Homo sapiens: one gene and its partner. The protein of the gene in region 1 interacts with the protein of each later gene in a pairwise test. Each region holds a gene or a part of one and is shown on either strand. Other genes may lie near its edges. The genes, in order: CDK10 and RNF115.

The links.
Region 2: the proteins of CDK10 (region 1) and RNF115 interact in a two-hybrid assay, tested with the Homo sapiens proteins (one study listed by BioGRID).

Annotation. Positions count from the first base shown.
Region 1 is NC_000016.10:89,689,488-89,693,300, forward strand, and holds part of CDK10 (cyclin-dependent kinase 10), read left to right. Parts: intron 1-1,065; coding exon 1,066-1,137; intron 1,138-1,955; coding exon 1,956-2,058; intron 2,059-2,318; coding exon 2,319-2,400; intron 2,401-2,961; coding exon 2,962-3,029; intron 3,030-3,786; coding exon 3,787-3,813. UniProt on the Homo sapiens protein: Cyclin-dependent kinase that phosphorylates the transcription factor ETS2 (in vitro) and positively controls its proteasomal degradation (in cells).
Region 2 is NC_000001.11:145,817,476-145,821,288, reverse strand, and holds part of RNF115 (E3 ubiquitin-protein ligase RNF115), read left to right. Parts: intron 1-3,813. UniProt on the Homo sapiens protein: E3 ubiquitin-protein ligase that catalyzes the 'Lys-48'- and/or 'Lys-63'-linked polyubiquitination of various substrates and thereby plays a role in a number of signaling pathways including autophagy, innate immunity, cell proliferation and cell death.

The DNA of each region.
Region 1 (3,813 bases):
CACAAACATTGTACCATTTCTGGGTAAACGTAAGCATCCGGTTGCTAATGCCCATAATCCAAACGTGTCACTGCAGAGTACACAGAACTGTTAGAGAAATAAAATACAGAACTTTCCAGAAGCAGCAGGAGCTGGACATGGTGCTCATGTCTATCACCTCAGCAACTCTGGAGGAGTCACCTGAGCCCAGGTGTTTTTTCTTTTTGTTTGTTTTTGAGATGGGTCTTGCTCTATTGCCCAGACTGGAGTGCAGTGGCATGATCATAGCTCACTGCGGCCTCGACCTCCTAGGCTCAAGTGATCCTCCCACCTCAGCCTCCTGAGTATCTGGGACCACAAGAGTACATAAGCACACCCAGCTAATTTTTAAATTTTTGGTAGAGATGGGATCTCCCTATGTTGCCCAGGCTGGTCTTGAACTTCTGGGCTCAAATGATCCTCCTGCCTCGGCCTCCCAAAGCACTGGGATTACAGGTGTGAGCCACTGCACCCGGCCAAGCCTAGGAGTTTGAGGCTGCAGTGAGCTGTGATCACGCCACTGCACCCCAGCCTTGGCAACAGAGTGAGACCCTGTCTCAAAAAAACCAAAAACACCACACACAACTAAAGGTTATAACAGATGTGAAATTGGCGTAGGTCATTCTGGAAGCTGCACACATTAGCAGGATGTTTTGTAGAGCCATCTTCACACAAAATAAGGTTTGCTTTTTTCTGCATAGAGTACCTTATTTGCTTTTAGGACATTACAAGAGAGCACAAAGCAGTGATCTGCATGCTAAGGAGGACATGGAGAGCCTGGAGCCACAGAACTGAGTGGCTGGAGGCCAGGGTCCAGCACAGAGCAAAGTTGGGCACCCCCTGCCCAGTTCAAATGAGGAAACCCTCCGGGGGAACGCGTCTCGGGCTAGGGGCGTTGCACAGAGTGGGGACTGAGTGTCACTGGGCATGAGGTTGTCAGAGGAAAGAACGGGGACCCCTGTGGCTCAGGGAGAGCCTCCCGTTCAGCGCTAGGGAGCCCACGAGGGGCATCGAGATGATGTCATCACCAATGTGTTTCCATTCCAGATCGGGCCCGGGACACCCAGACAGATGAGATTGTCGCACTGAAGAAGGTGCGGATGGACAAGGAGAAGGATGGTGAGCAGGAAATTGGGGTGTTGGGACCTCGCACTGGGAGGAGGCAGAAGGATGTGAGTTACCTGAAGTTTCCTCAGAGCGACTGCACGGTGCTTGTAGCGGGGGCCGGCCTCTGGGAGGGTTCTGGTGTGGCCCAGCACATCACCCCCAGGTCCACACGCAGCCTCAGCTGTCTGCCAGGAGGGCTCTGCAGTCTCCATCCCCTCCTCCCCCTCCTGTCTGGTGAGGCCACCTCACTGCAGGCTCAGCTCTGCTGTCCCCTCCACCCCCAGCACCTGCCTGTGCAGGCAGGGCCCTGCCATGCCCCACATAGATGTCCACGGTGTTTAGAGAGGTGCCGATTCGTATTTGGTCAAGGAAGAGTTAAAAGTGCTTATTGGGCCGGGCATGGTGGCTCATGCCTGTAATCCCAGCACTTTGGGAGGCCGAGGCAGGCGGATCACCTGAGGTCGGCAGTTCAAGACCAGCCTGACCAACATGGAGAAACCCCATCTCTACTAAAAATACAAAATTAGCCAGGCGTGGTGGCACATGCCTGTAATCCCAGCTACTAGGGAGGCTGAGGCAGGAGAATTGCTTGAACCCGGGAGGCAGAGGTTGCGGTGAGCCGAGATGGTGCCATTGCACTCCAGCCTGGGCAACGAGCGAAACTCCGTCTCAAAAAAAAAAAAATGCTTATTGGGGTCGCCCCAATTCTCCCTGAGGTGGGGACACTGCAGCACCTGCTATCAGGTGTTCGTGAAGCCCAAGAGTGGCTGGGGTTGGGGCTTCCCCGCCATCACTGGGGTGGGGCTCGCTGAGGCCACCTCCCTCCCCAGGCATCCCCATCAGCAGCTTGCGGGAGATCACGCTGCTGCTCCGCCTGCGTCATCCGAACATCGTGGAGCTGAAGGAGGTGGTTGTGGGGAACCACCTGGAGAGGTACGTGGTCTCCTGGTCTGCACATTGGGCCCTAGGGAGCATGTGTCTTGGGCTAGAGGTGTTGCACAGAGCGAGGACTGAGTGTCACTGGGCATGAGGTTGTCAGAGAAGAGATGACCCCACCTCACCGCCTGGCTCAGCCCATTGTCTGAGGGGGACACAGGTTGTCCTGCCCATGTCCCCTCCTGCAGCAGGGGAGGCTCCACTTCCACCCCTTAGGAGAAGGCCGGAGAGTGGCATGCATCTTCTGTTTCTTCCAGCATCTTCCTGGTGATGGGTTACTGTGAGCAGGACCTGGCCAGCCTCCTGGAGAATATGCCAACACCCTTCTCGGAGGCTCAGGTGCGTGGCAGAGGGGCCTGGGGTGGGGGAATGGGCTTCATGGGCCCTTGTGGTGCACATTTATAACGAAACAGGGCACTTGGGGACTTGAAGAGCTGCTGCTGCCTCTGCCTCCACCTCCCAGTGTTTCAGCGAGCTTCAGTGAGGTGGAATTCCTGTGGTGGGGGCATCTGCTGGGAGCGGGCAGCCCCAGGGCCGAGAGCCTTATGAGGGCACTGGTTTCCTGGGCTGTTGGGAGCAGGCAGCCCCGGGGCTGAGAGCCTTCTGAGGGCACTGGTTTCCTGGGCTGCTGGGAGCGGGGAGCCCTGGGCGGAGAGCCTTCTGAGGGCACTGGTTTTCTGGGCTGCTGGGAGAGTGCAGCCCCGGGGCCAAGAGCCTTGTGAGGGCACTGGTTTCCTGGGCTGCTGGGAGCGTGCAGCCCCGGGGCCGAGAGCCTTCTGAGGGCACTGGTTTCCTGGGCTATTGGGACTGCTAGTCCTGCTGGCCAGTGTGGGTGTGGCAGGGCCCAGCTGGGCTTCCCTGCAGGCTCACCCTGACTGGTACCTCTGACCCTCTGCACAGGTCAAGTGCATCGTGCTGCAGGTGCTCCGGGGCCTCCAGTATCTGCACAGGAACTTCATTATCCACAGGTGGGTGACAGCTAGGCAGAGTTGGAAGCACAAATTCGGCTGAGGCCTAACTCTGCTGCCCCTGTGGAGTTACTAAAAGCTCAGGGGTTCCCAGCTGCAGCAGCCTGCCCGCTGCTCGCACTCCATTTGTGTTTTTTTCTAAAATAGAGAAGGGGTCTCTCTGTGTTGCCCAGGCTGGTCTCACACACTTGGGCTCAAGTGATCCACCCACCTTGGCCTCCCAAAGTGCTGGGATTACAGGTGGGAGCCACCACACCCAGGCATGCACTCCGATTTTTAAAAGGTCCAAACATCAACAGCATGTAAGAGTTAATGAAAAAAAAAATAATAAAGATACTACGCCGGGCACAGTGGCTCACGCCTGTGATCCCAGCACTTTGGGAGGCCGAGGCAGGCGGATCACGAGGTCAGGAGATCGAGACCATCCTTGTTAACACAGTGAAACCCCATCTCTACTAAAAATACAAAAAAATTAGCCGGGCGTGGTGGCGGGCGCCTGTAGTCCCAGCTACTTGGGAGGCCGAGGCAGGAGAATGGCGTGAACCCGGGAGGCGGAGCTTGCAGTGAGCCGGGATTGCTCCACTGCACTCCAGCCTGGGCGACAGAGTGAGACTCTGTCTCAAAAAAAAAAAAAAAAGATACTAAAAAGCCCAAAGCTGAGGAAACGTGCAGGAAGTCTACGGGCATTGGTGCCGTGGGGGAGCTCTCAGCCCCTGTGGCCCTCTGGGAGCCACCTGCCACTGTTTTTCCATCACAGGGACCTGAAGGTTTCCAACTTGCTCAT
Region 2 (3,813 bases), on another chromosome or scaffold:
TCTGATTTGTAAATTGAGGCCTAACACAATTGAGTATAACCGGATTCTTCCTAAATATATCCAAGGTTCTCTGCTGAGTGTCCTGGAGGTGATAGGGAGTGATATGTGGCTCCTGCCCTTAAGGATCTTACAGCTTTTGGGGAAAGACAAGGCAAACATAGAAAAAGTAACAGCATAAAGGGAATGAGGATATGTGCTTTAGGATTCAGAGAGGGGAATTTCATAGCATTGGTGTGGCCAGTGGGATTTAAATTGAGTTTTGAGGGATGGGTACATTTCAGATTGAGAATTCCAAAGACTGTGAGGTAGCAAAAGGAAGAGGGAGTTGATGAAGAAGGGAGAAATATTTAATAAATCATGTTTTTTTCACAACTAAAAGTTGTATACTATATTTTTTATAGTGTTCAGCATGATTTGATATATGTATACACTGAATGGTTAAATCAAGCTATTTAACATGCATTACCTCACATACTTATTTTTGCGTGGTGAGAACACTTAAAATCTGTCTTAGCAATTTTCAAATATACAGTATATTCCCTTTTTCTTTTTTTGAGACTGAGTCTCGCTCTGTCACCAGGCTGGAGTGCAGTGGTGCGATCTCGGTTCACTACAACCTCCACCTCCTGGGTTCAAGCAGTTCTCCTGCCTCGGCCTCCCAAGTAGTGGGGACTACAGGCACGTGCCACCATGCCCAGCTAATTTTTGTATTTTTAGTAGAGACGGGGTTTCACCATGTTGGCCAGGATGGTCTCCATCTCGACCTTGTGATATGCCCACCTTGGCCTCCCAAAGTGGTGGGATTACAGGTGTGAGCCACTGCACCCGGCCTCTTTTTTTCTTTTTAAATAGAGACAGAATTTATTCTGTCTTGTTGCCCAGGCTGTTCTTGAATTTGTGGGCTCAATGTGTCCTCCCACTATATCCTCCTGAGTAGTAGTAGATAGGTGTGTTCCACCATGCCTGGCTAATTTTTTTTTCTTTTTTGTAGAGATGGGATTTTGCCATGTTGCCCCGGCTGGTCTCAAATTTCTGGGCTTAAGCAATCTGCCTGCCTCAGCCTCCCAAAGTGCTGGGGTTACAGGCATGAGCTATTGCGGCTGGCCTGATATGTGGTATTTGTTTTTAATTCTGTTTATGTGATGAATCACATTTATTGATTTGCCTATGTTGAACTAACCTTGCATCCCAGGAGTAAAGACTACTTGATTGTGGTAGATTAGCTTTTAATTTTTATTTATTTATTTTTTTGAGATGGAGTCTTGCTCTTTAGCCCAGGCTGGAGTGCAGTGGAACGAGCTCAGCTCACTGCAACCTCTGCCTCCTGGGTTCAAGCGATTCTCGTGCCTCAGCCTCCCAGATACCTGGGATTACAGGTTTGCACCACTAGACCTGGCTAATTTTTGTATTTTTGGTAGAGATGGGGTTTCCCCGTGTTGGCCGGGTTGGCTTTGAAATCCTGACCTCAAGTGATCTGCCTGCCTTGGCCCCCCAAAGTGCTGAGATTACAGGTGTGAGCCACCACACTGGCCTGCATTAGCTTTTTAATGTGCTGCTGGTTCAGTTTGTTAGTATTTTATTTAGAATTTTTGTGTCTGTGTTCATTAGGGATATTGGCCCGGAGTTTTCTTTTTTCATTGTGTCTTTGCCAGGTTTTGGTATCAGAATGCTGCTGGCCTCATGGAATGGGTTAGGGAAGAGTCCCTCCTCGATTTTTTGGAATAATTTCAGTAGGATTGGTACAAGCTCTTCTTCGTGTCTGGTGGGGTTTGGCTGTGAGTCCGTCTGGTCCAGGGCCTTTTCTGATTGGTAAGTTTTTTATTTTTCATTATTTTTTGAGACAGGGTCTCACTGTGTCGCCCATACTGGAGTTCAGTGGCATGATCACGGCTCACTGCTGCAGCCTCGACTTCCCAGACTCAGGTGATCCTCCCACCTTAGCCTCCTGAGTAGCTGGACCTACGGGTATGTGCTACCACACCTGGCTGTTTTTTTTTTTTTTTTTTTTTTTTTTTTTGAGAGATAAGGTTTCGTCATGTTGCCCAGCCTGGTCTTGAACTCCTAGGCTCAAGCGATCCGCCTGCCTTTGCCTCCCAAAGTGCTGGGATTGTAGGCATGAGCCATGGCCCTGGCCAGGTTTTTTATTACTGATTCAATTTTGGAACTCGTCATTGGTCTGTTCAGAATTTCAGTTTCTTCCTGGTTCAGTCTTGTGAGGTTGTATGTTTCCAGGAATTTATCTGGAATTTTAGGTTTTCTAGTTTGTGTGCATAAAGGTGTTTGTAATAGTCTCTGAGGGTTCTTTGTATTTCTGTGGGATTGGTGGTAATGTCAGTTTTGTCATTTCTGATGGTGTTTATTTAGATCGTCTCTCTTTTTTTCTTTATTAATCTAGCTAGTGGTCTATCAATTTTATTTTTTGAAAGAACCAACTTTTGGTTTCGTTTATCATTTATTTGTATGGATTTTCGCATCTCAATTTCATTCAGTTCAGCACTGATTTTGGTTATTTCTTCTGCTGGCTTTGGGGTTGGTTTGTTCTTGTTTTTCTAGTTTCTCTAGGTGTGATGTTAGGTTGTTAATTTGAGATCTTTCTAGCTTTTTGATGGAAGTGTTTAGTGCTATAAACTTTCCTCTTAATACTGCTTTAACTGTATCCTAGTGATTCTGGTATGCTGTATCTTTGTTTTCATTAGTTTCAAAGAACTTTCTGATTTCTCCCTTAATTTCATTTTTTACTGAAAAGTCATTCAGGAACAAGTTGTCTCATTTCCATGTAATTGTATAGTTTTGAGAGACCTTTTTAGTATTGATTTCTATTTTAATTGCACTATAATCCGAGAGTGTGGTTGGTATGATTTTGGTTTTTTTGCCTACGCACTTCTCAAAAGAAGACATATATGCAGCCCAATAAGCATATGAAAAAATGCTCAGGATTACTAATCGTCAGAGAAATGCAAACCAAAACCACAGCGAGATACCATCTCACACCAGTCAGAATAGCTATTATTAGAAAGTTAAAGAATAACAGTTGTTGGCAAGGTTGTGGAGAAAAGGGAATGCCTATACACTGCCGGTGAGAATGTAAATTAGTTCAGCCACTGTGGAAGGCAGTTTGATTTCCCAAAGAACTTAAAACGGAACTACCATTCTGCCCAGCAATCCATTACTGGGTATATACCCAGAGGAATATAAATCGTTTTACCAAAAAGACACATGCACTTGTATGTTTATTGTGGCACTGTTCACAAGAGCAAAGACATGGAATCAACCTAGATGCCCATCAGTGGTGGACTTAATAAAGAAAATATGGTACATATACATCATGGGATACTATACAGCTATTTAAAAAAAACAAAACCGAAATCATGTCCTTTGCAGCAACATGGATGCAGCTGGAGGTCATTATCCTAAGTGAATTAAAGCAGGAACAGAAAGCCAAGTACCACGTGTTCTCACTTAAAAGTGGGAGCTAAACATTGAGTACACATGGGCATAAACATGGACACGAGGGCTTACTTGAGGTGGTGAGGGTAAGAGGAGGATGAGGGTCAAAAAACTGCCTATCTTGTACTATGGTCAGTTGCTGGGTGACGAAATAATCAGTACACCAAATTCCAGTGACACAGTTTGTCCGTGTAACAAATGTACATATGTGCCCCCAAACCTAAAATCAAAAAAAATATGTGTAGAAAACAAAGAGCAAAATGAAGGACCTAAAACCTAAAAACCATTTATAGTCAATATATAAAAAGGCTTAATACCCCAGTTAAAATCAGATATGGATAAATTTTATAAAAACAAAGTAAACAA